Linked DNA regions of Homo sapiens: regions 1, 3, 4 and 5 are each linked to region 2. The links come from fine-mapping of genetic effects on gene expression. A gene starts in region 2. Each other region holds a variant in brackets. All regions are shown on one strand. Distances are from middle to middle.

Region 1 (5,000 bases), 110 kb before region 2:
CAGCAGAGTTTGGATGCTTAATTGCTGTGCCTTACAAGGGGCCGGACAAAGGGCAAGTTAGGATTCCACGGAGATCATCTAAGTAATGAATGATCAGGGCTTGCACTAAGGCAGTGGCAACAGTGTTGTAAGGTGGAGCACATGTCTGGCGATTTTGAGGAAGCAGAATTCACAGGACATGATTGACTATAGAGGAGTAAGGGAGTGAGGATCCGGGATGACTGTCTGGTTCCTAGTTGGTTTCTTGTAGGAGACCCGTTCACTAAGGCAGAAGACATGTGAAGAAATGAGGTTTGGAAAAAGAGGGGGACATAATCAGGTCAGTTTTGGATGTGCTTGAGTTGGACAAACCAAATGGAGAAATCTAGAAAGCAACTGGGCCTGAAGGTGAGGAGAGAACAGAAGCCAGAGGGGTGATGAGATTCCTGAGGGGATGGGCAAGGAGGAGAAGATCCGTGAAGGCAGGGCTCAGATACCCCCTGCAACTGTCTCCCACCTTGAAGGGATAAGCAGAGAAATACAAGCTATCTACCAGAATATCAGACCTAGTGATCATTTATTTAACAAAATGATAGTAAAGAAACAAATGACTGAAGATTCATGCAGTTTAGATTTTTAGGAAGTCCAGCTGCTTTCAAGGTAAATGTCTCCGTACTCCTAGGAGATATTGGCAAATCTAGTTTGCTTATTTGATATATATTTATCCCTATTTTTTTCAAATGGGATCAAGTACTTTTGTAGTAATGACATGACAAACATTATTCGTTTTCAGAAATCTTTTCAGTTATAGTAATTTCCTTTTAGCCTTGAAAAATGGAAAACTATCCTCAACCCTCTAAATACTCTTGTTGTAAGAAAGTCTTCTGATCTCTAACATCACTTTTTTTTTTTTAAATCTTAGTTTTTAATTGTATATATATACTTAAAATGTTTCCTGGTTAGTTTTCAGTCTTCACCTTCTGCAAGTTCCATGACAGCAGGAACCATTTATTTCACCACTGTATGCTTGGGGCCTAGCAGGTTTTTGGCATACTTCTTGATTAACTCATGAACTTTACTAGCTCCTCCCATCCCAAATCTCCTCCTTTCCTCCCTCCCTCCCTCTCTTCTTTCCTTCTGTTCAACAAATATTTGTTGGATGCCTACTGTAAGCCAGGGATTCAGCTTAGACTGGTATATAAAGATGACTAAGGCAGTGCTCCTGCTCTTAATACTTTGGTAGATACAAACTTGGTATGTGGGTAGCACCTTGATGTCTAGAATTTCACCAAGAAGATAGCAAGGGGGCCGGGTGCGTTGGCTCACGCCTGTAATCCCAGCACTTTGGGAGGCCGAGGCAGGTGGACCATGAGGTCAGGAGATCAAGATCATCCTGGCCAACATGGTGAAACCCCGTCTCTACTAAAAAATACAAAAAAATGAGTCGGGCGTGGTGGCGGGTGCCTGTAGTCCCAGCTACTCAGGAGGCTGAGGCAGGAGAATGGCATGAACCCAGGAGGCAGAGCTTGCAGTGAGCCGAGATCGTGCCACTGCACTCCAGCCTGGGCAACAGAGTGAGACTCCGTCTCAAAAAAAAAAAAAAAAAAAAAAAAAGATAGCGAGGGAAAGGCATCGCTGTCAGAAGGAAATGGCATGTGTAACAAGCTTAGGGGTAGGGGTATGTGAAACGCACATGGTGTACATGAGGAAAGGCCAGGAGCTTTATGTCGCTGGAGCACAAAACAGTATTCATGGAATGCTGTGGAAAGTGGGGCAGACAAATCAGTGCCAGGTGAGGCTGAAAAAGTGAAGCCTGTGAAGGCATGAGAAACCATCTTAATTTTTGGATTTTTGTGCCCCTAATCTTGACCCATAAGGGCATCTGGAAAGACAGGTGAGGAGTCAGCATTTTTGTGGTTGACAGAGAAAATGGTGGAGGATTCATTCATTCATACTTATACTTTCTTGCATTGCCTATCTTTTGGTTTTATAAGAGAGAGAAAAAATTATTTTATAAGCAATTATTTATAAAACAATTCATTAGAGCAAATTTGTTTTTGAATCAGGAGCAAAATATTTTTTGTAATAAATGGACAAAAGCTTTTGCCTCTTGTCGATTTCAATCATTAAACTGTGAGGGAGAGTTTTTCAATTTAGTGGATTAACATATTTCAAGGCATTATCCTTCAACAATAAGGGAGAGGTTTCTCTGGCCTCATTAATTTTTGGTGTAAACTCATGAATTCTTATTTCATTCAATAGGCTATAATCTATTACGGACATTAATTATTCTGACCCTCAAACTGAACCAGATTTGACAGGGGCAGCCCCTTCAAGCTGGCTTTGTCCTTCTGACTCTTCACCATTTTGTGAGCCCTTCTTTACTTTTAGGCACAATATATTCTAGGCTTATCTTGGACTTTCCCTGTCACGGCCTTGGGATCAGCCAGTTCTCTAGAGAATGGAACTGGTTTTATATATTTGCAATTTTCTAAATTGTGTGTCTGAGACACAAGTTTTTTATAATTTTTATTTACCAGGTTTTAAAAAATGCCATTTGATATTCAGTTTAATGCCAATTACCTTCTGGCAACATTTGTTTCCCACAACCTAATATATCCCATGAGCCCCTGACCTTGGGGTCAAAATTTCTCCCAGCTACACCAGGTTTTAAGAACTAATGAGGCTGGCAAGGGATGAGAGTATTTACAATTTTTTTTAAAGTAGTTTTAAAAACACATGTAAAATAAAAAGCACCTCAGTATTTTTTGTATCTATGTAAATATTTTATTCTGCTTCCAGATAGAACATTGAAGTTTACATGTTATTTTAAAGACAATAAACAGCTAAGCTACTGACATAAAATAT[G/A]CAATAAATTTATGAGATATAAGGTACAGATGAGAAAAATCTGAAATAAGTTTTTAACTTCATTTAGCCTATTAGGAACATGAAGATGTCTGGAATTGATGCTGGCCTTGGTCTCAAGTACTTTTTCCCATATGTATTTGTTTTATCCTTCCAGAAAGCATATCATATTAGAGTGTCTAAGAAATCAGTGAATCACTAAGTTTTCCATCTTACCGAAGTACAAAACATTATTTCAAATCTAGGCCTTCTGACAGAATCCAATATCTATTTTTATACTTACTTTTCTTTCTACTAAGTTCTTTAATAAAATTATGAATCAGAAAGCAAGTACAAGACATGCTTATTTCACACAGAATATCAATGAAGACTTAAGAAGATAAATAGCAAGTACTTCTAAAAAATCACAAATTTTGACATTTGGAACAATATAATTGCCATACTATTATATCTTTTATTAAAAAAGACCTTTTCCAGCTTGTTTCCAGACTTCTTTTACTCCTTTAATGCTTTCTTTCTTCACACACTTCCAGTATTCTTGTATACTCTGATGTTGTGGTACCTGTTAACCGAAAGTAAAAATCAAGGGGTCATTGTCTTCAAGGTTAAACATGATTTCATATATACTTTACGTTACTGTTTATTTCCTTCCCACACTCCTCCAAAAATAGTTGAGGGTGAATTATGTTGTAAAAGATGATCACAACAGAACTGAAAATGGGGGTAAAAGACAAAAAGTGAATGTAACTATGCTTAAGGTTACTAGGGAGTGGAACCAGACTGAGCACACATTAATGGAGTTTCTTCTCTAAGAGGGTAATGAAGACTTTGGGCCATCTCTTCTTTCACATACTGGCTTTAAAATTTAATTACTTTATAATGTTTTCCTTTTATAATGTTTTATAATCTTTCCCTTTTTTTCTGGTGAACTTTGTTTAGCTATGTAGAATACAATTATAAGCCTAAAGCTTTGATTTAACATTGGCTAAAATTAAAAAAAAAAAAGGCCACAAAGTATTTGATGAAAAGCTTCAAGAAATAATCTAATTCATGGACGTGTTTTGTTAGCTAAAAATACATGTGGATTACTACTACTCTCAACAAAATGAAAAGGTAAAGGTTAGGAAATATTTGGATCCGGGGGACCACAGGAGCATAGCACTGATGAAAATTAGCCAAGTGGAAGCAAAATTCTACTCCAGATTATATATGTTCTTTTTCTTATGACTGATTTACAGCTTTTCTTTTTAATGTCTTCTGAGAAAGGGCAAGGAGACTCCCAGGTACACTCAATTGTGAACTGAAAAGACTGGCTTAATTTCCCGGAATATATTTATGGGTGTTGGATAACTGCAAAGTTTATAAAATATTAATATGTTTGCTAATGAAAATAATATTTATTTTTCCCTAAGTTATGTTTGTTGCAGGAAATGGAATTGCTTTTCTAAGTTGTAAATAGCTTTATTTTCATGAATAGTACCATATTCTCTCTCTCTCTCCTTCCTTTTTTCTTGCCTACCTACCAACCATGTAGATTCTCTTTGGACCCTAGTCTTCCCCTGGCAGACTTCTTTTCTGAGAGTGCTTCTAGCACATTCTAATCTGAACAAAAATCTGAATTTGATTTGTCCCACAAGTATAGACTCATATGTGACTTTGAGTGAATAATGCTAATAGTGAAATTTACTTCATAATCTCAGCCACTATACTAAGTATTTTACATCAAATTCTAACAATAATGCTTTCTGGTAGATTAGTTTCCTCATGGTATGGGTCAAGAATCTGAGACTAAAAAAAATTAAGTGGCTTTGCAAGATTAAGCAGTTAATAAACAGTAGAGGTGGGATTTGAATTTACATATATCTAATTACATGTAGTTAGTCAAATCCTAGGCTATGATTTTTTTTCCCTTTTTTTGTAGAAACAGAGTCTCATGATGTTATCCACGCTGGTCTCAAACTCCTGGCCTCAAGTGATCCACCCGGCTCGGCCTCCCACAATGTGCTGGGATTACAGATGTGAGCCACCATGTCCAGCTAGGCTACATTTCTGAATAGTAATTTCTTTTTTAAAAAATTATTTTTTTTTGGAGACAAGGGCTTGCTCTGTTGCACAGTCTAGAGTGCAGTGGTGCGATCGTAGCTCACAGTCACTTT
Region 2 (5,000 bases):
ACAGGCGTGAGCCACCAGGCCCGGCCGGACATATTCACTATTATTATAGGGCCGCGTCAGGAAGAGTTTACCAACTTGGAATACCAATGTAACTATATTAATGCATAAAATTCTATTGCAATGAAAGATTCATCACAAGCCAAAATTCTGGTATATATCTAGCTCAACTATGCACACCTGTCCCTAAAGTAGTGGTAGTAGGCCCACTTCTTAGGGAAATGTATCAAAATCACTGAGGCGAAGGCAAAGTTTTCAACCTATAGGTCCTCTCAATCCTTCCTGTATTCAGCCACTGATGCTGAAAGGAATGTCCACCGTGGTGGCAAAAGGATGAGAACCACTGTCTCGGTCCAATAGCAGATCAGGCAAATGCTATGCCAACAGACCTTATAAAACGATTGATAATAAAATGGTTTCTGTATTACTTTAGCTAAGATTAAACTTACAAAGCTGCAGGGAAGGAGAGCTGAGAGTTGGGAAGAGAATCCAAAATAACTACACTAGTGTGAAGCTTTTAGAATCAAGTCAGGGATTTCAAAGGAGAAAGATTAGAAGTGGGCCAGAAAAAAAAAAAACAATTAGATGGATAAGTGAAATCAAGAGTCTACAAATTGCAGCTGGCGGGTGAGCGGTATTTAAGTCTTGTTCTAGGGATAGTGAGTGAATCACTTTAGTGGGAAGGTGCCTGAGTAGTGTCAGGTCAGAGTGTGACTATAAAAGGCTCTGAAAGACAAAGTTTTAAAATGTGCATTTTGGCCGGGCGCTGTGGCTCACGCCAGTAATCCCAGCACTCTGGGAGGCCAAGGCAGGCGGATCACGAGGTCAGGAGATCGAGACCATCCTGGCCAACATGGTGAAACCCCGGCTCTACTAACAATACAAAAAAAAATTAGCTGGACGTGGTGGCGTATGCCTGTAATCCTAGCTACTTGGGAGGCTGAGGTAGGAGAATTACTTGAACCGGGGAGTTAAGAGGTTGTAGTGAGCCGGGATCACGCCACTGCACTCCAGCCTGGGTGACAGAGACTCCATCTCAACAACAAAAAAAAAGTGCATTTTACTCTTGGCAAAATGAGACACTGAAGAAGGGTTTCTGAAGAAGGGTACACTGTGTGGTTAAAGTGATACTCCGGAGAAGATTAACCTAAGGGTCTTAAAAACAGGATGAATCGGCCGGGCGCAGTGGCTCACGCCTGTAATTCCAGCACTTAGGGAGGCCAAGGCGGGCGGATCACGAGGTCAGGAGATCGAGACCATCCTGGCTAATACGGTGAAACCCCGTCTCTACTAAAAACACAAAAAATTAGCCGGGCGCGATGGCGGGCGCCTGTAGTCCCAGCTACTCGGGAGGCTGAGGCAGGAGAATGGCGTGAACCCGGGAGGCGGAGCTTGCAGTAAGCCGAGATAGCGCCACTGCAGTCCGGCCTGGGCGACAGAGCGAGACTCCTCTCAAAAAAAACAAAAACAAAAACAAAAAACAAACAAAAAAACCAGGATGAATCTAGGGGAGAGAAACTAATGATGAATACACTGAACTCCTTGGCACAAGATTCACAAAAATGCTATAAAAACACTAGATAATAGATCTTTCCATTATATATGTTTACAATATAATTATAATGTATGTTAATACAAATAAGGAATATCAGTTGCCAATACTTAATTTTAACTCACAAGGCCTTCTTTCCTCTCTTTTTTGTTGTATCTGAATGTTCCTTGAGTTTTTCGCTAGAAAGGCATAATGTAAATCTAAAAAAGAAAATAATAAACTACTACTTTCAATTTTCAAAAAAGCTCATATGTAAAAACTTACTAAGTCTACAAAAATTTTAAAGCACTACTCATTCAAATTTTCAAATGCGTTACAACATCATTTATCCTGAAATAGGGAACTTGAATCTTTTTTTTTTTTTTTTGAGACGGAGTTTCGCTCTTGTAGCTCAGGCTGGAGTGCAATGGCTCGATCTTGGCTCACTGCAACCTCCGCCTCCCGGATTCAAGCGGTTCTCCTACTTCAGCCTCCCGCCACCACACCCAGCTAATTGTTTATATTTTTTAGTAGAGACCGGGGGGGCGGGGCTGGGGTGGGGAGCGGCTTCACCATGTTGGCCAGGCTGGTCTCGAACTCCTGACCTCAGGAGATCCACCCGCCTCGGCCTCCCAAAGCCCTGGGATTAAAGGCGTGTGCCACCGCGCCCGGCGGACTCTTGTCTTTAATAGATGGAGGTTTTAGGAGCAATTTTTGCTTAGAACTTATGGTCCACTAAGATATTAAGGTTTATAATCATGCAATAATGTTCCTTAAAGTTGATAATAAAATCTGGAAATCAACTGGTTAATTTTTGTGGCTGACACATTCGTGACTTAAAAAAGCAATCGACAGAACTTCATCATGCTATACAAAGAAAAGATCGTAAAACTTAGTTGCAAAGCTTAACAAAGGTATATCCCACAGGGGTAACTGGACGCAAACCACCTGCGGATGTGAATGCCACTTCACTGACCAGAGAGGTAGCAAGAGGCGAGGCGCAGTGAGATTCTGAATTAGGAGCCTCGAATTAAGACACGCCCACACTCATCACCACTAAATTAGTGCGGCCAGTTTTGTGGGCCGTGGTGTTCAGCGTCCGCGGGGTTCTCCCAAGGGAGGCAGAATCTCCGGTCACCAGCCTCGAAGGCCCTCGGGGACTCAGGCCGGGGGCCGGTCCAGGAAGGAGCGAGTCCCACCAGTCGCAGGGCGCTCCGATCCGCAGCGGCACCTCCACCCACGGCTCCGGGAGAGCCGCCCAGAGCCAAACCACTCCCCGCCTAAGGGCGTCAGGGGAGGGAGGAGCTTGACTGGGGCTAGCAGAAGGAGTTAGTCCTGTACCTGTGCGGAGACTGTAAAACTGCCATCCCGCGCCGCAACACTGACGCGGCTGTGGTGCCAGGCCGCTCCTGCTCCTGCCAGGGCCGCGCCGGCCACTGCCGCTGCCAAGGGGCCGGGACTCCGCACAGCCTGTCGGCTGACAGCGAGCCCCCGTCGCAGTTTTCCGCCCCAGGCCGCCACCCGCGCGCAGCTACCCGCAGCCGCCGCCATCTTTGCGGAAGCGCAGCTAGGCGGCGCTTCTCTCCCGGCGCCGCCGCCTACCGCTTGGGAACTCTCGCGACATCCGACAGGCTTCCGCCCCGCCTACCGGGCCTGCGCCGTGGGTGCGGTTGCTGAGGCGACGCTCGCAGCCGCAAGAGGTGGCCTTCGGTTCCGGGGCTGCCTTCTAAGGCTGTGGGGATGGGATGACAGGAAGAGTATCAAGACAGTATAATATGACTTCCTAGTCCAAAACAAGATAGTGCCCTCGGTTGTGTGGGCAGGTTTCTCCTTTTCATTTTTTCACCTTGTAAAACTGTGAAACGTTTTTTGAAATAGTCTCTTCTGCATCTGTGTTGTTCATGTCTTCCTATGCTTATAGTCTTGACTGTTCTTTCATTTCTGCTAAAACAACTCTCAGACAAGGCATTCTGTTTATTTCAGTCCCTCACTATTTGCTTATAATGAATTTAAATTCAGTTTCAACAAAAGGTTTGATAGTAGCTCTTATCCTACCTAGAACTAAAAGTCAGAGACAGCAGCACACCAGCCCCATGTCTCTATCATCAGGGACCCAGAGGTTTTCCCCAGTGCAGATTTAGAACGATACCTCCAGTCCTGGCTGTTGCATTGGTGATAAGTGATGTAGCTGAGGCAGACTACTTGGTTTTATTTAACAGCCTCCAATCCTCCATTCTTTGGTCTTCACTTTTCCTGAGTAACTCTTTTTAATAAACTCTTTGTTCAGCCTCTGAAATGTCCCCAGCTATTAGAAGCTTTAGTTGGGCATGCAGTAACGGAGCCAACATCAAAGGGGCCAAGACTCCTAATCACATAATCACTGCTGTCTTGAAGTTTTGCACAAAACAAAACTTCAAGAAACAAAAACAAAAACCTGTCACACGAAATCTAATTTGATCATTCAGTGGAAGTTCCGTGGATCCCTTTGTTATTATCTGCCCTTAATCCTTGCTCCCTTTCTCTTAGCCCGCTTGTCTAAATTAATCTGCAGTCAGAGGTTCCTCACTTTTCCGTCAGCTTCTGGACTTACTTTTCAGTGTGCCTTCCCAGGTAGGAAGTAGAGAGATGAGCCTCACTTCACCGACTTGTGAGCCAGACCTCAAGGTTTGAATCTTAGCTCTACCAGGATGATCACTGTGGTTTGGGGCAAATTATTTAATCTCTCTGAGTCTCCATTTTCTCATTTGTAAATAACTCACGATTTGGTAGATGATCACTGCTATTTGGGGTAAGGTATTTAATCTCTTTGAGTCTCAATTTTTTCATCTGTGAACAACCCTCTTACAGTTTGGGGTGGGGAAGCTAAATGAGATATTTTATATAAAGTGACTAGCCAAATGCCTGGCACATGGTAGGCTCATGACAGATGTGCGTTTACTGTGGTCAAGGTTTGGTTTACTTCTGCCCTGTGAACACAAATGAGCTTGACTGAATGTCCATGATTCCAGATCACTAGCCCATCTTAACCTGAGATTTTCCTGCTTTTTTGTATCTAGCCTGACTTTGTCAACCTCTGGACTGTTTTTCACCTCTGCTAACTCTGGTAGCTTTGGCACATGTCCTGCTTTTCTGGACTATTGACATCTAGCTTGTTTCCTGGTGATAATAGGACTTCCAGGATATTTTGGACACCCTGGATGTCTTACCTTGTAGTTTATTCTTGATTTCCAGAAACCACAGTCTTTACGTGTATACTTCTAACTGCCTCACACAGTTCCTCTAGGTATTTAATGAAACCTGGCATCTATTACTCAGTATTGCCTTAAGCCCAAGATAAGTTTAGATTCCCATTAAAACATGTAGCATATTTAAGAACATTGTCTTTCTCCCACAATTTGACATCCTTGTGGGTGAGATGTCTTCCTTTTCCCTGTTTCTCTAGCACCTAGCACAATGCCCAGCACGTAATAGA
Region 3 (6,632 bases), 120 kb before region 2:
GTTTCTGTGGCCTCTTTTCTATGCTTGCATGACTGACTCAATGCTCTTTGTGATTTATTTATTTGTTCAGGGATTCAAAAATATTTATTGGACATCTACTCTATGACAGGTGTTGTTTCAAGTTTCAAGAACACAATGGTGAATAAAGAAAAATTCCTGCTGTAGTCCCAGCTACTCGGGAAGCTAAGCCAGGAGGATTGCTTGAGCCCAGGAGGTCTGGACTAGCCTGGACAACATAGTGAGACCCTGTCTCTAAAAAGGAAAAAAATCCCTGCTTTTATGGAACTTACATTCTAATAGGATAAGCAGATATAAACAGATATACAAATATATGTATATATACACATTTTAAGTTGATGATCAAGTTCTAGTAAGAAAAACAACATAGAGAAAGAGGGTGGGGTACAATGGGGATTGGTTTGTTATGGTCTTTTTTTTTTTTCTCCTTCCAGTTTATTTATTTTTCTCTCTAAGACCAATTTACAGTCTATTAGCACTGTGTGAGCACCTGTTTCACCACATATACAAACCCCTCCAAGACTATAAGGATATCATTAGGCTTTATATCAGTGTCAGGTAGTAAACATAATTTTGTACATACTTTGCATTTTATTTCTCCTGAGGTTCAGTATTTTCCATGGGTAAACAATAAATATGTTAGAACATATTTATTCAAGATGAGACATTTGTCTCCTGGTGAGACATCTTGGTCTAATGCTGACTCTGGGGACATTTGGTTGTTGACTGTGAGGTGGCTATCTACATGTGGAGTGGAGGAGTCCTGGCCTTGGATTGAGGAGAACAAGGTCAACTTCTCACCTCACTCGTTTCTGGCTTTTGCGACCTTGGATAAGTTTAACTTTCTCTCTCCTAGGTTTAGTTTTCTTGTGTGTAAGTGCTGCCTTCTCACTGTGAGCTCACACAGCCTTTCCTCAGTGTGTGTGTGCAGAGATCTCTCTCTTCCACTTTTTTTAAATGAATTATTTAATTTGGAGGACCAAGTGCAGAATCTTCCTCTACTTATAAGGCCAAAAATCCTATCCAATTAGAAACTCATTCTAATGACCTCATTTAACCTTAATTACCTCTTACAAGTCCTGTCTAGAAATACAGTCATATTGGGGTTTAGGGCTTCAATATACGAATTTGGGGGGATGGGGAGACAATTCAGTCCATAGTAAACACTTTCTCGAAGAGTAGTTACAATGTTTATAAGAGACAATGTAGGTAAAAGTAGTTTCAGTTACCTGCAGCTAAATGCAGTTTATTATCCCTTCAGAATCCTCTGCAGAAGAGGCACCTAATAAATATTATTTATTTGGACTTAACCTAAGGTATTATTCTTTATATAGTGCCTTCCCATGGAATGATTGAAATCATGTTTATCATTTTGCAGCACAGTTTATTTCTTATAGGGTCATGGCTAATAAAAAACATGGGAAAATGACCCTCACTAATAGAGTCATTAATTTAAATAAGGAAATGTAATTTCAAATTTTTTCTTTTTGGGGGCCTATTACGTTAACAATGCTTTTAAAAATTTATTGTAAATATGAGTGTTATAAAACAGAAATTTCCACATTATGTTGGGATTATAAATTGGCATGCTCCTGAATAGCAATTTTTGGCAATGCATATTTAAGGATCTTAGATAATGTTTTTCACTTTTGATTTAGTATTTCCACTTCATGAATATCCTTAGGAAATAATATTTGAACAAAGATTTATGTACAAAGATGTGTGAGCTGTATGATCTATAATGCATAGAAATGGGAATCAATTGAAATAGTCCATAATGAAGAACTAATTACTTATCAATATATCCATAAATTATGCATCCATTAAAAATTATTTCTAAGCATATTTAGTTATCTAAATATATATATAGCATGACACCTAAGTTTATTTTATATATATGGGATACATGATGTGAGATATATGTATATATGAATGTGAATATATATGATATACATATAAAAAGAATAGGAGATACTAGGAGTTATTTTAATTTTGTCTTTATGTTTCTCATTTCATAAATTTCTATGAAGAACATTTTAATTGTTTTATACCCAGAAAAAAGAGGGGCTAGTTTTTCTTAGCCAGGTGTATATTGGTCCTTCCTTGATTGTTTAAAATACCTCCGTTTATCTTCTTCTAGGATCACTCATTTTTCATTGGTTTATTTGTAAGATGAAGCACTGTCCAGCAGTGACGACTGTTGGAAAAGATATGTCTAAAGGCTGTTGTCTCCTCTTGGCAAGTTTACTTGGAGCTGGTGTACTGGGTGACGGCCTTGGTGCCCTCCGACACGGCGTGCTTGGCCAGCTCCCCGGGCAGCAGCAGGCGCACAGCCGTCTGGATCTCCCTGGAGGTGATGATCGAGCGCTTGTTGTAATGCGCCAGGCCGGAAGACTCGCCCGCGATGCCCTCAACGATGTCATTAACGAATGGCCTTGGAAGAGATGCGGGTGTCGGGGTGGACCTGCTTCAGCAGAGTAGCTCTCCTTGCGGCTGCGCTTGCGCTTCTTGCCAACCTTCTGCGCCTTGGTCACCGCCTTCTTGGAGCCCTTCTTCAGGGAGGGAGCAGACTTGGCTGGCTCAGGCATCTTCAAACACCAGAAGTATGTCCCTGATGGTCTTTTTCACAAGGATAACTGAGTAGAGACCTGACTGATGCAGAGGGGTGAGTCCTATGAAAGACCCAGAGTTGGAAGATTATAGGCCAGGTGAACAGCAAGGCAATGACTTTGAGGCAGGAGAGAGCTTGAGGGGTTCCAGGGAAAACAAGATGGCCATAGTGGTTGAGCAAGAGTGGGAAGGAGAGAAGGTGAGGTTGGGAGTGTCAGGGGCAGGGGCAGGAAGAACCTTGAGACCTTGGTGAAGGTTTGTATTTTATTGTTATGGGAGCCTTTGAACATAACTTAAAGAAGTTATTTACTTTTTTGGTGGTTGTCCTTGAGTTTGCAGTATATGTTTATAACTAACCCATGTCTTCTTTCTTTCCTTCTTTTTTTTGGGGGAGGTGGGGTGGGATGGGGGGGGACAGGGTCTCTGCCACCCAGGCTAGAGTGCAGTAGTGCAATCACAGCTCACTGCAGCCTCAAACTCCTGGGCTCCAGCGATCCTCCTGCCTCAGCCTCTTGAGTAACTAGGGCTGTAGGTATGCATCGCTATGCCCGGCTAATTTATTTTATTTTTAATTTTTTGTAGAGATGGGGGTCCATGTCCTCTTTGAAATAACACTATACTACTTCAAGGGTATGCAGGTACTTTATACAAGAGCATTTTCTCTTTTCTTTCTTTCTCTTTCTGTCTCTCTGTCTCTCTCTTTCTCTTTCTTTGTCTTCTTTCTTTCTCTTTCTGTCTGTCTCTTTCTCTTTGTCTTCTTTCTTTCTCTTTCTTTGTCTTTCTCTTTCTTTTCTTTTCTTTCTTTTCTTTCTTTTTTTTTTGACAGAGACTCACTCTGTCACCCAGGCTGGAGTGCAGTAGTGCAATCTCAGCTCACTGCAACCTCCACCTCCCGGGTTCAAGTGATTTTCCTGCCTCAGCCTCCTGAGTAGCTGGGATTACAGGCATAACCCATCACGCCTGGCTAATTTTTGTATTTTTAGTAGAGA[C/T]GGGGTGTTTCCCCATGTTGGTCAGGCTGGTCTTGAACTCTTGACCTCAAGTGATCCTCCCGCTTTGGCCTCCCAAAGTGCTGGGATTACAGGCATGAGCCACCATGTCAGGGCCCTCTGGAGGTTTTTTTTTTTTTTTTTTTTTTTTTTTGAGACAGAGTGTTGCTCTGGTTGCGCAGGCTGGAGTGCAATGGCATGATCTCAACCAACTAACTGCAACCTCCACCTCCCAGGTTCAAGCTATTCTCCTGCCTCAGCCTCCCATGTAGCTGGAATTATAGGCATGTGCCACCATGCTCGGCTAATTTTGTACTTTTAGTAGAGACGGGGTTTCTCCATGTTGGTCAGGCTGGTCTCGAACTCCCCACCTCAGGTGATCCATCCACCTTGGCCTCCCAAAGTTCTGGGATTACAGGCGTGAGCCACCACACCCAGCCTGGAGTTTTTAACTCTCAAACTTGTCCGTAAGGAGCCTCTGTCAATACATTAAATCACAGTTTAGGTTTTCTTTATTTCCTTCCATCTTTGAATTTCATTTGTTCTTTTTCTGGTTCCTTAAGGTGTAAAGTTGTTGATTTGAGATTATTGTTCTTTTTAAATGTAAACATTTATAGCTATTAATTTCTGTCTTAAGGCTGGACGCGATGGCTCATGCCTGTAATCCCAGCACTTGAGGCCAAGGTGGGCGGATCACCTGAGGTCAGGAGTTTGAGACCAGCCTGGCCAACATGGTGAAACCCTATCTCTACTAATAATACAAAAATTAGCCAGGATGGTGGCAGGCGCCTGTAATCCCAGCTACTTAGGAGGCTGAGGCAGGAGAATTGCTTGAACCCGGGAGGCAGAGGTTGCAGTGAGCCGATATCGTGCCATTACACTCCAGCCTGGGGGACAAGAGCAAGACTTCATCCCCCCCAAAAAAAAAAATTTCCCTCTTTAGCACTGCTTTCACTGCATCTCATAGTTTTGCTGTTGTGTTTTCATTTTTATTTGTCTCAACGTATGTTCTCATTTCCCTTTTCTTTGAGGCATTGGTTGTTTGAGTGGGTTGTTAATTTCCACATATTTGTGGCCCAGTGGCTTTTATATATACTTATGAAGTTACCTTTAGTAGTATTTTTTTTTCTTCTGTCTTTGAATTACTGTCTATTGTCTTTTCATTTCAGTCTGAAGCACTCCGTTTAGCATTTCTTGTAGGGCAGTACTGGTAATAAGACTCAGTCTTTTAAATCTGGATATATCTTAATTTCTCCTTCATTCTTGAATGATAGTTTTGCTGTATATAGAGTTCTCGGTTGACAGTCTTTTTCTTTCAAGACTTTAAATATGTCATCCAGTGCCTTTTGGCCTCCATGGTTTCTAGTGGAAGATAAACTGTCATTCTTAATGAAGGTCTCTTGTACATGCATGAGTCACTTTTTTTTTTTTTTTTTTTTTTCCACGGAGTCTTGCTCTGTCGCCCAGGCTGGACTGCAGTGGTGTGATCTTGGCTCACTGCAAGCTCTGCCTCCAGGTTCTGGCCATTCTCCTGCCTCAGCCTCCTGAGTAGCTGGGACTACAGGTGACCGCCACCACGCCCAGCTAATTTTTTGTATTTTCAGTAGAGATGGGGTTTCACCGTGTTAGCCAGGATGGTCTCAATCTCCTGACCTCATGATCCGCCCACCTCAGCCTCCCAAAGTGCTGGGATTACAGGCATGAGCCACCGCACCTGGCCGCATGAGTCACTTCTACCTGATGCTTTCAAAATTATCTTTTTGTCTATGGGAGTTGATAATTTGACTATATGTCTCAGTGTGTATCTCTTCAAAGTTTTCCTGCTTGGAGTTCATTGAGCTTCTTAGATGTATATATTCATGTTTTTAATCAGATTTGGGAAGTTGTCAGCTATTATTTCTTCAAATTTTTTGCTGCTCCTTTCTCTATGTCTTCTCCTTCTGGGATTCCTATAATGTGTATTTGGTATGCTTGATGAGGTCCCATAGGTTCCTCAGGCTGTCTTCATTTTTCTTCACTCTTTCTTTCTTTTCCCTAGACTGGGTAATTTTCAATGTCTTATCTTCAATTTTGCCAGTCCTCTCTTTTCCTTGTTCAAACTTGCTGTTGAATCCCTCTATTGCATTTTTCATTTTAGTTATTGCAGATTTTGTTTGGCTCCTTTTTATAATTTCTATTTATACTTTCATTTTGTTCAGACATTGTTTTCTTGATTTCTATTAGTGTTTATTCATGGTTTCCTTTAGAAAACATATTGAACATATTTAAAACAATTGATTTAACATCTTTGACTAATAATTCCAAAGTCTGGTCTTCTTTAGGTATGGTTTCTGTGAAATTCTTTATATCCTGTGAATGGATCATACTTTCCTGTTGCTTTACATGTTTTATAATTTTTTGTTGAGAACTGGTTATTCTGAGCATTATGTTGTAGTAACTCTGGAATCTAATTCTACTCCTTAGGGATTGCTTGTTTTTGCTTGTTGTGGGCTGGACCCATTCCTATTTGTGCCTTTTCCAAACAATGTATCTTCCTTGTTGTGTGTGGCTACTGAGGTTTCTTTTCTGTTATCTCTACAGTTAGCCAGTAACCTGACAAAAATGTCCTTAAATGTCTGACTTTCAAGAAGGAGGGAAGATATCCTGTCTCTTTAAATCTCTTGTGGCTGGGAAGCTGCTTCAGCTTGTGAAGTGGGCATTAAAAAATGGTTGGCCTCCAGCCTGGCCCCTCATCACTTTATCAAAATCAGCAAGCAGCTAGCAGAACACATGACCCCCACTCCTGGAGGATAAGGTCTTTTGTGCTCACACTGGTTCCAGGAAGCTGCCCCAGGAATGTGGGCTGCTTCCCTGACAGTTTCCTGATGCTGGGTGGCAGGCTTTTTGCTGTTGCTGCTACATCACAAAAGGCTGAAGTTCACCAAAATTTACTAGCAACTTCATCAAACTCTCCCTCAAATGTCAGAAATGTTCCAAAATAAGACAATTCCTGCCAGTTCAATAGTTGTTTAGGTGAAG
Region 4 (5,000 bases), 21 kb before region 2:
ATTGGCGAATCTACTCCTGTGTCTTTATAATCAAGAATAATCCTAGTTAGATCTTGGGAAGAGAGGGGAGCAGACATTTGTAGACTAGAATAGACAGAGCCTGATATTCTACAATGATCCAGGCAACCTAAATCTCCAAACTTGAATTGCTTGTGAAGTACTCTTAAATATTTAAGAGTAACTCTTAAATATTTGAAAACTCAAATGAATTTTGTCACTTTTAGTCTAAAATTAGTTTCTAAATATTTATGGGCTATTGTTTAGATAGTCTCTTAACTTATAACTTTATAAAACTTCATGTAAGTAACAAATATTATTACCAGTATTAATAATATTCCTGAAATTATGGGTATACTCCTTAGGCTGTGAAAACTTGAATACCCCAACTCACTTACAGGCTGGAGGATGAATAAACTTGAAGAAGCTCCCTTGAACAATGAAGGTTAGTGGCAACAGACAAAGGTGTCTGTTCCATTTATAAAGGTGTAAACAGGATAAGCTAGTAAAACAGGGCTAACTGGGTTAGAATAGAGAATGTACAGAGTCAGAACAAAAGAGATGAACTAGTGAAGAGCAAGAGGCAAACATCAACAATTACCTGATCTGAAGGTAACAGCAGGTAAAAATTAGCAGTAATATAGTGACATAATCAAAGCAGTGAAGTGGAAAATAAGTTTAGATCTAGCCTTTGAAACATTTTATGTGAAGGATAAATACTAAGAACTAGGAAGAGACAAGGATGTAACCTGAAAATTTAGAGCAGAGGTTCTGCAACCTCCACCTCCTGGGTTCAAGCAATTCTCGTGCCTCAGCCTCTTGAGTAGCTGGGATTACAGGCATGCACCACCACACCAGGCTAATTTTTGTATTTTTAGTAGAGATGGGGTTTCACCATGTTGACCAGGCTAGTCTCAAACTCCTGGCCTCAAGTGATCCACCCACTTTGGCCTCCCAAAGTGCTGGGATTACAGGTGTGAGCCACTACTCTGCCTACAGCAGAGGTTGTTAACCTTACATGACATAATCATACTTCTGGGGTTCATAACTCCCTGAAATCTGTGTGAAACATGTTTGTGCATTTTTTTGGGAAAGAGTATGTAACTTTTACCACATAATCAGATTCACACCCTATTCAAAGATCAGGAAAAATGACAAAGATGAATGATAAAATGGTAAAATACAATAATTAGTAAAATAAAATGTCTCAATTTTAAGTAGTGCACGTTAGAATAATGTATATAGTTAATGAAGTTTAAACAGCTGAGATGAATATTTGACTCAGTCCCTTTTTGATATCTAGTAGTAAAGGTCTCTTTTAAAATTTAAGTGAAAAGAGCTTACCCAACATGACTAAGTATGAAATGTAAAATCTATTAATTCCAGGTCGTCTAAAAATGTCACCAGCTAAAGCAGATTAATTAAAATAAAGAATACACACAACTGCTATCTAGCACAAATAAAGCAAAGAACTACAGGAAATCATTGCTACACAAAATTTTTTAATAAAAGCTTGGTCTTTAACAAAACCTTACATGCATATCTGCATAATTCTGATTTTTGTTTTCACTATACCTTTTCCTGGATGTGGCAACAAAGCCACTGCGGGGTGCCTTCCCCTGCTCTATATAAGTAAGTGGCCATCACATTAACTATGATAAATACTTATAGCTTTTAGTAGAGAAACAACTAAAGAGAAATACGGGTGACAAGAGACTGGAGAGCAAGGAGACAGGGGCAAGGGCTAGTCTCCAAAAGGGCCTGGACAGCTTACTTTCCCTCTAATGACACAATGTGGAACTACAATAATCATGTCTTAGCTTTAGCACTAAATAGCTTTATTTCTATAAAAACTCTATCTACTGAAGATACAATAGCCAAAACTTTTAACAGTAACTAGTCTTCTCAAGTCATCATAAGAAGAGGATGGTTTTTTACAAGTTTCCTTTTGACTTTTCCCCTAATTTTTCTATAATATACATGTATTTCAATAAGAAAAAAAGCCAACATAAGTAATTTTTAAAAAAGAATTGAGAAACAAGCAACAGCTCTAGCCCCCTTCCTGATATATATCAAAGAATTTCAGTAAACATAAATTATTATTTTGTTAGATATGAGTTCTAAATTTCTCTTCAAAGAATATGTACGTTCAATTATTTGCTTTCTACTTTTAAACTTAACTTCCTTCTAAAACAACCTTTTTCGATTACCTGCTCCACCCTGACTCATTCTAATTACCTGCTCATTCTCCACACTGACTCATTCCAATTTCCTGCTCTGCCATAAGTGTTTTTCCCACCAAACCACTCACCCCGTCACTCTCTTTAGCCAA[T/C]TGGAATTAGTTTAGCCTGTGCGGTCTAACCCTAGCCAATAGGGGAAAGACACAGCAGCAGGGGCCACGTGCATCAGGGGTAAGAACCCCTTCCCCTCCCTTGTCCAAGTGTGCGCTCACCATTGTTCCATCTGTAAGGGCGCACTCTTCTGTAGAAGTACATTGCCTTGCTGAGAATTAAAAAGAAAAATTTATATTCGAGTGCTATTTCTTTTGCAGCGTGGAAACTTCATTTATAACCATTTCTTCAGTGTTTCAGGAAGCAATCTTTTTACAACTATAATTTAAGATGGATTTAAGCACTGCCTAATGGTCAAGTCTACTAATGAAATACAAAGTACTAGTTTAAAAACAAAAAGGCTGGGCTAGCTCATGCCTGTAGTCCTAGCTACTCGAGAGATTGAGGAGGGAGGCCTGCTTGGGTCTAGGAGTTTGCCTTGAGCTATGATTGCACCACTATGCTCTGGCCTGGGCGACAGAGACCTTGTCTATATAAGTAGAAAACAAAAACAAAAACAAAAAAGTTGCAGTATTAAATAAATAAACATGCTTCAATCACTGATAAAAAGTGATCAGTCAGTATTAAGTTTTTTAAAAAATAAAAGTGTGTCTCTGTAAAATACACTACTGATTGCCTTTGTATTGCAACGGTTTCCTGGTTGAACCCCAATGCTTCCTCATAATCATTATTTTCTGGCTTGCCATTAAAGTATCTTACACTTGGTATGTCTGAGAATAGGAAATACTAGGACAGACAAGTCTTTCATATATACTTCAACATATGTAGGCTGCTGGATCAGTTATCATCTGATAATTAAATGAGCCTTTGGGAAGTGCTCAGCTGTTTCCTGTTTTTCCTTTGCAGTAGGGCAGTCACAGCTCCATGCATGGGGCTCCCGCTAAAGCAACAGTCAAAGCAGTACTACTACCATCACCGAAAGAGCAGTTCCCTGACCTGAAATTCAATCCTGGAGCATTCCAAGCATTCCAGAACTTCCCAGGACTGGGCCTGAATGGAGGCAGAGCCATATTGAAAATGTGCTGATTTGAGCTGGTTTCTTAACTGGGCAATTATGACCAAGTTAAACTGAAAAAGTTTTTGTCCTTAAAACAACAGTGTGATTTAATCTCCTGACATTTAAGAAACATAGAAATCAACCCATTTACAGCTTCTCACTGTATATAATCTTCTAATTGCATATACTAGTGAATAAGAAAAATGACATAATTTCAAACAGTAGATGTGCTGCATTATTCATATTTTCCTTTGAAATATCTGGAACAGTTTGTAGAAACACATTGTGCTTTCATATTTAAGGGTTCATTTTGCCTAATTTTAAAAATGGTTTGCACTGGCCAGGCACGGTGGCTCACGCCTGTAATCCCAGCATTTTGGGAGGCTGGGGCGGGTGGATCATGAGGTCAGGAGATCGAGACCATCATGGCTAACAGGGTGAAACCCCGTCTCTACTAAAAATACAAAAAATTAGCTGGGCGTGGTGGCAGGCGCCTGTAGTCCCAGCTACTCGGGAGGCTGGGGCAGGAGAATGGTGTGAAGCTGGGAGGCGGAGCTTGCAGTGAGCCGAGATCACACCACTGCACTCCAGCCTGGGTGACAGAGCGAGACTCCATCTCAAAAAAAAAAAAAAAGGTTTGCATTTCCAGGGTACATACAGCTAAGTGATGAGGGACTGAGGACAAAGATGCCTGCGATCTTAAGGTATACAAGTTTCTAGTACACAACACACAAAGTTAATGATATCCATGTGGATAAATTTCAGATTTTATAACACCTTATTTCCTTAGAAATATCTATGAACTATCTATGGAACCACATATCTATGGAACTTTCATAGATGTCTATGAAAATTTTAAGTCCAGGCTATACTTAAAAAATATGATTCATTATTATTTTTATATTGAAATTACTTATACTCTGAAAACATTTAATAATGTTATTTATGAAGTTATTGAGACAATATATTTACTACTAATTTACTCTACCAAATATTTACTGCTTTTTAAACTATAAATAAAACATTTAAATTCATATACTGCTACTATTAGTGGCTTATGGTGTGTTTATGCACTGTTGTAATTCATAAAACCCCAAAATTCACAGTAACAGAAGCATAATTTGTATATATTAGCTACTAAAACACATGGTTTATAGAACAAGAACAAACAGTAATATTTACTTGGATTCCACTAAACAATATAAATGCAAAAGAAAAGGTTAAATATACTTTGCTGTTACAATTTGTTGTTCTTTCCCCCAGAAGAGTCACTGTATAGATTTACAGTAGGATCGTTAACTACTGTCCTATTACACAATGAAGGAATGTAAGACAACCTCTCATTCATGCAGGACAAACAGCTATGCCAAAAGCACAAATTACATCTAATTACAGGGTATAACTTTGTCATCTCTCTTTTCATAATCTAGCCATTTACAACTTTGATTTTTGACTTCCATTTGGGTTTATTAACATCATAGCTTTGTCATCACCTGTTTCTACAGATATTTTTACCTGAGGCAGTAAAGTATAAAAACTTCTTTGCATTCTTCCTTTACTGTTGCAAGAAAGCTTTAGTCTTCACTGGGATTACAATGTTTCATGGTTATTAAACTTCTGTATGTTGCTATAAAGTTTACTGCTCTTGGCCTACC
Region 5 (5,000 bases), 63 kb before region 2:
TGTTCTGAAGACAATCCCTTCTTTCCTATTTTCCAGGATTTTGTCCTATTCATACTTCCTTTGTATTGTCCACCTCTCCTTCTCATCAACAAGAAACATGCTCACCACCTAAAATAAACCAATATTCTCTTGGCCTTTTTTCTCTACCCTTAGCTACTACCCTCTAACTCCTCTGTTCATGACCATGTCTCTCAAGAGGTCTGCGTTTACTTTTCTCATATCCGCCCTCACGTCTCAGTGCTCTGCAACTTGGCTTTAGATCTCATCCTATCACTGATCTGTACAGTTGGCCCTCCGCATCCATGCATTCAACCAACCGTGTATCAAAAATATTAAAAAAAAAAGGTCTGGTGTGGTGGCTCATGCCTGTAATCCCATTACTTTCAATGGCCAAGTCAGGAGGACTGCTTGAGCCCAGGAGTTTGAGTCCAGCCTGAGCAATGTAGTGAGACTCCCGTCTATACTAAAATTAAAAAAAATTAGCCATGTATGGTGGTGCACACCTGTAGTCCCAGCAGGCTGCAGCAGGAGGACTGCTTGAGTCCCAGAGTTTGACGCTGCCGGGAGCTATGACTGCGCCACTGCACTCCAACCCAGCAACAGAGCAAGACCCTGTCTCAAAAAAAAAAAAAAAAAACCCCAAACAACCCACACCAATACAAATAAATAGAGTTACAGAATATAACAACTATATACATAGCATTTACATTGTATTAGGTATTATAAGTAATCTAGAGATGATTTGAACTAAATGGGAGGATGTTTGTAGGTTATACGCAAATATGATGCCATTTTATATCAGGATCTTGAGCATTCTTGGATTTTGGTATCCAAGGGGGGTCCTGGAATCAATACCCCATAGATAACAAGGCACCACTGTACTTGTTAAAATGTCAAACACTTCCAGCTGCTAAATATAGAGGATACTTCTCAGTCCTTAGCTCACTCAACTCCCTACATTTACTTGGTTTTGACATTTGATAAGTTCCCTTTTTCTTTAACACTTTCTCTGCTTGGCTTCTGTGATAACACTCTCCTGGCATTCCTCTACCTCTCTGATTACTCTGCCATGACCTCTTTCCGTCCACTCCCCTAAGTGGTGTGGCTCCTCTGGATGCCCTTGAAGGCTTCTCATCTTTTATTTTAGATACTCTGCCTCATACCCTCATCCATTAAAACATTGATGTTTTAATAATTTATCTGTAATTGCTCAAAGACTTTGAAAAAGTTACCTCCTTACTTCATGTTTTAAAAACACCTATTAAATAACATGGTACAAATCTCATACCTTAATTCCTTAATAATACTTCAGTTAAATAAAACACATAACTAGAAATTTAACAACAAACCAAAATTACCTTTATCGCCAAGGTCTCTGAAAAAAGTTGATCCACAGCCAGCTGTTTGGATCCCTGACAGTGTATCCTCGATGTCCTTTGAATACACATATTAAAATTAAACTTCTAAAAGTTCATTTTCTTTGTAGCTGGGACTACAGACGCCCACCTCCATAGCCGGCTAATTTCTTTTTGTATTTTTAGTAGACACAGGGCTTCACTGTGTTAGCCAGGATGGTGATCTCCTGACCTCGTGATCCGCCCACCTTGGCCTCCCAAAGTGCTGGGATTACAGGTGTGAGCCACCGTGCCCGGCCAAAAGTTCATTTTCTATCTTACCAAAAACAAACCCTGCCCCCCACAACATGATGCTTACCTTTTTTGTCAGCTTCTTGACTGAAGTTTTACCTACAACAAATAAGAAACATTATTTAGTATCCATATTCTTTGGTAAAACTCAACTTGCACTAAGAAAGAAAATTATTTAAAAGACAAAACAAACAACTAAATATTTATTTAAAAAGCAAAGGCTTGTAATTTTAGCTAATATCCTTAAGCCATAATCATGAGTCAGAGAATTCTAAGACTAAACACAAAGACACTACAGTTTTTCACAAGATCCATTTTCAATTTCACTCACCCTATTTCATACATATGAAATTGTATATAACCATCTATGATTTATCCTAGTTGTATGAATCATATTATTAATTCTTGTCAAACATAATTTCTTCACATGATTATTAAAATCACTCTCTTTTTACTTTCATTGATTTAGAAAAAAACACTCATGATTTATAAAGCTTCCTTTTTTTGAACTCTGGAAAGTCCTCTTAGGCTTATAACTCTCCAGTCAAATGTAAAAGTCTAGCCAACATAACCATCCATTCTAAAGTAGTTATTTTTAATAATTTCCTACTGGATAACAGAGATTTAAAATTCTTTCAGGTTTTCAGCCACCCTCTTTACTGCCTACATCATTTTCCTAATATCCACCATAATTCTAAAGCTATTACATTGTTT[C/CT]TTTTTTTTAGGACTTACTCTGATGATAGCCTCAAATCATTTTAAACATCCAGAACAAAACTGAAAAATGTTTTATTTTGTTTCTTACATAAGCAATATACAGCACTAACTTTACTTATTGCTCTCAAAATTATCTTGTCTATGAAGTTCCTTCAGCACAATTACGCAGTCTGTAGAAATTCAGGTGGCACATTAAAAAAGAGTGCTTTTAGATGTGGCTTTTCTGTAGTTTGGGTTGTTTAATTTGGACGATAAATCTACAAGGGCAAATTCTATTATTTGGTATTAGTAAACTGTCAGGATTTTATTTTTACATTATTAGTCAAAACATTACTTGTGAATATGACTACATACTTTTTAGAAACATCTATGACTATGTTTGTAAGCTTAGGTGTTGTTATTTTGGGATAATTTTTACTCACTGGAGAAACTATTATGTGCCAGCCAAAGACAAAGAGCCCCAGATTCTACTGTTAGGTGTTGTTATAGTATCAGATAATCAAATAGATAAAAATTACCATTTATTGGACAAATCTAAGTGAGTGAATGTGTATATAATACGTAGTCATATAATGCTGATAATGAACTCCAAAAAACTGTGTAATACATGTATTTACTTATCTTTACATAGTCAATTAACTTAAAAAAGAAACTGATCATTATTTCTATGCTTGTCCTAAAGTTACGCCACAAATAGTCATTACCATGTACCCTTTTATTTTTAGACAACTAAAATTAGTCTTATCTGTTTTTAAAAAGCGGATTAATCCTTACATCCAACTTAAAGTAGTCTAGAAAGCAATGATTGACATTTTGAAGGCAGAAGAGGATCAAGAATTTAAGGTAGCAAAATGGATGGTGTCTAAGAGTTTCTTAGAAATCAGATTATTTCTAAGGGGTGTTATCTGTTTGAAGGCTAGATTCCTTTTTGGTCTTTCAAAAATCTGTTAAAAAAAAAAATCCTTCTACTTGAAACTGAGTGAGTAAAGAAGGTAATGTTTGCTTCCCTCCAGCTAGAAGTCTGGCTGCCAAACAGGTAAGCCAATAAAATTCAATACTATGTGAATGAAATACCACAATAAAGTCATGAATTGATTGAATAATATAACACCAGAATTACAGGTAAAAAGTAAATTATAAAATCTATGGAGGCAGATTTCATACCTGTCTTACTTTTATGTAGGTCAGTGCTAAACATTTAAATATTTGTTGAATGAGTAACTGAATAAACAAATCAGAAAAGATTTCACAATGTCTTCTTATCCAGGTCCCTGTCTTTTGGATAAATTATTATATCCCCACTTTACATGTAAAACAAATTGGCAAGAGGAATTAGGTAACAATATGGGCCTTGAAGGATTTATTTTCATATCTCATATAGATTTTTCAAAAACAGGTGTTAGACTCTTTGAATTCCATGACAGTAGTAAAAAGAGCCTGCGGCCTACTTTCAACACTTAACAAAACTGAATAATTATGCATGGTACGATTATAGAGGCAGTTTTGCTGCTTTTCATTATTTAATGTAGATTACAAGTTCTATTTGACATGTATATAAAAATTTGATCATCAAAAAGGAGAAAACCAGATACTTAATGCAGTTTAAGTTGTAAAAACATCTTTTTAAATTTTTTTAATTCAAATGGAATAAATAATTAGAAAATAATGAAGAAATTAACTTTTTGATTAAAAGTTTAGAAGCTAGTCTCTTACATAAAATTCATTTTTAGATTAAAAAAAAAAGACAAGGCAAAGATACTAGGAATGAACACCCGTTCTCTCCTGCTTCCTCTTTCTCTTCAGTTAATGCACCTCTCCCTGAGTATTATGAGAGGTTGTGGTGTTTCTAATCCAGAACACTCTGGCAGGGTTTTCTTGGTAGACAGTTGTCTCACCCAGGATGCTTACTCTATACTACTTGTTCATGGCTGAGCAGCAAAATAAGAGGTCCATGGTCTGACCTGCACAGCAGGAGCCATGACCTTTTTTCTCCCTACAGCAGTAACAAGGCAAGAGCATATTAAATACACCTAAGTATTTCTGGACAATATTTTTCTATTTAAGGATAAAACCCATCTGGCAAATAATCTAATTTTTCCTTCTGTTTTTGTTTGAGTTTGTTTTTTTCAATGTAGGGTAGGGGGACACTCCTGTCTCTCTTTCTTTGGCTATTTCCACATTCACACAAATAAAAAATTCAGTCTCATTATTTTCACAGCTATTTGATATGTATTCACACACTTATGTATGAAAATAACAGAATGGGGCAAAAAACAGGAAAAAAGATCTAGAATTGAGGTTGTAATGTTTCATTGTATGAATATGAAAACAAGAAAAACACATTAGGGGTTTTTGTTTTTGTAGGAGGCGGCATAGATCTTGAAGCACTAGGAATTTTGGTTCAGGAAGTAAAATGTTTTAAAAGGATTCCACCCATATTAGAGATTCCACCATGTGGTTTTCACTATTTACAGAGGATTTATGAAGTAAAATCCAGATACAGCATATCCTGTTATAGGTAAGTGAGCCTTTTAATACTTAAAATAGTAAAGCTGCATTGATACACATTAAGTGTTCTTATAGATCCAATAAATCTGCCCCTGGCCAAAATAAAGTTATTTGATAATCATAATTACAAAA

Alleles and levels. Positions count from the first base shown, and alleles are read on the strand shown. Sizes are in standard deviations (SD) of each study's normalised expression. Not every link is listed here.
In carriers of allele A in region 1, the expression in whole blood of the gene that starts at base 3,101 in region 2 tends to be lower than with G alone (small effect, 0.23 SD a copy in GTEx).

What was found. PIP is the estimated chance that this variant, and not a neighbour inherited with it, causes the effect. A credible set is the group of variants that fine-mapping cannot tell apart.
Region 1: its variant is the best candidate, but not a certain one, in a credible set for the expression of MICU2 in whole blood (GTEx, PIP 0.53).
Region 3: its variant is the best candidate, but not a certain one, in a credible set for the expression of MICU2 in whole blood (INTERVAL, PIP 0.76).
Region 4: its variant is the best candidate, but not a certain one, in a credible set for the expression of MICU2 in thyroid (GTEx, PIP 0.79).
Region 5: its variant is the best candidate, but not a certain one, in a credible set for the expression of MICU2 in whole blood (INTERVAL, PIP 0.55).

What each region holds. Positions count from the first base shown.
Region 1 is chr13:21,489,948-21,494,947 of GRCh38, forward strand. It overlaps MICU2 (mitochondrial calcium uptake 2), which reads right to left. Exons shown (of 12, transcript NM_152726.3): 12 at 2,744-3,406. The coding sequence ends at 3,302. Among named protein-coding and RNA genes, the nearest start is that of ZDHHC20, 33 kb to the left of the region's middle. The variant G/A (reference allele first, on the strand shown) is at 2,848.
Region 2 is chr13:21,601,070-21,606,069 of GRCh38, forward strand. MICU2 (mitochondrial calcium uptake 2) reads right to left here and starts at 3,101. Exons shown (of 12, transcript NM_152726.3): 1 at 2,870-3,101. The coding sequence starts at 3,079. RefSeq lists enhancers at 2,195-2,814, 2,815-3,433, 3,215-3,284 and a silencer at 2,835-3,044.
Region 3 is chr13:21,481,569-21,488,200 of GRCh38, forward strand. It overlaps the pseudogene H2BP6. Among named protein-coding and RNA genes, the nearest start is that of ZDHHC20, 26 kb to the left of the region's middle. The variant C/T (reference allele first, on the strand shown) is at 3,618.
Region 4 is chr13:21,580,425-21,585,424 of GRCh38, forward strand. The region is part of intron 1 of MICU2 (mitochondrial calcium uptake 2); the gene reads right to left. Among named protein-coding and RNA genes, the nearest start is that of MICU2, 21 kb to the right of the region's middle. The variant T/C (reference allele first, on the strand shown) is at 2,330.
Region 5 is chr13:21,537,944-21,542,943 of GRCh38, forward strand. It overlaps MICU2 (mitochondrial calcium uptake 2), which reads right to left. Exons shown (of 12, transcript NM_152726.3): 3 at 1,714-1,745; 4 at 1,359-1,434. Among named protein-coding and RNA genes, the nearest start is that of MICU2, 64 kb to the right of the region's middle. The variant C/CT (reference allele first, on the strand shown) is at 2,361.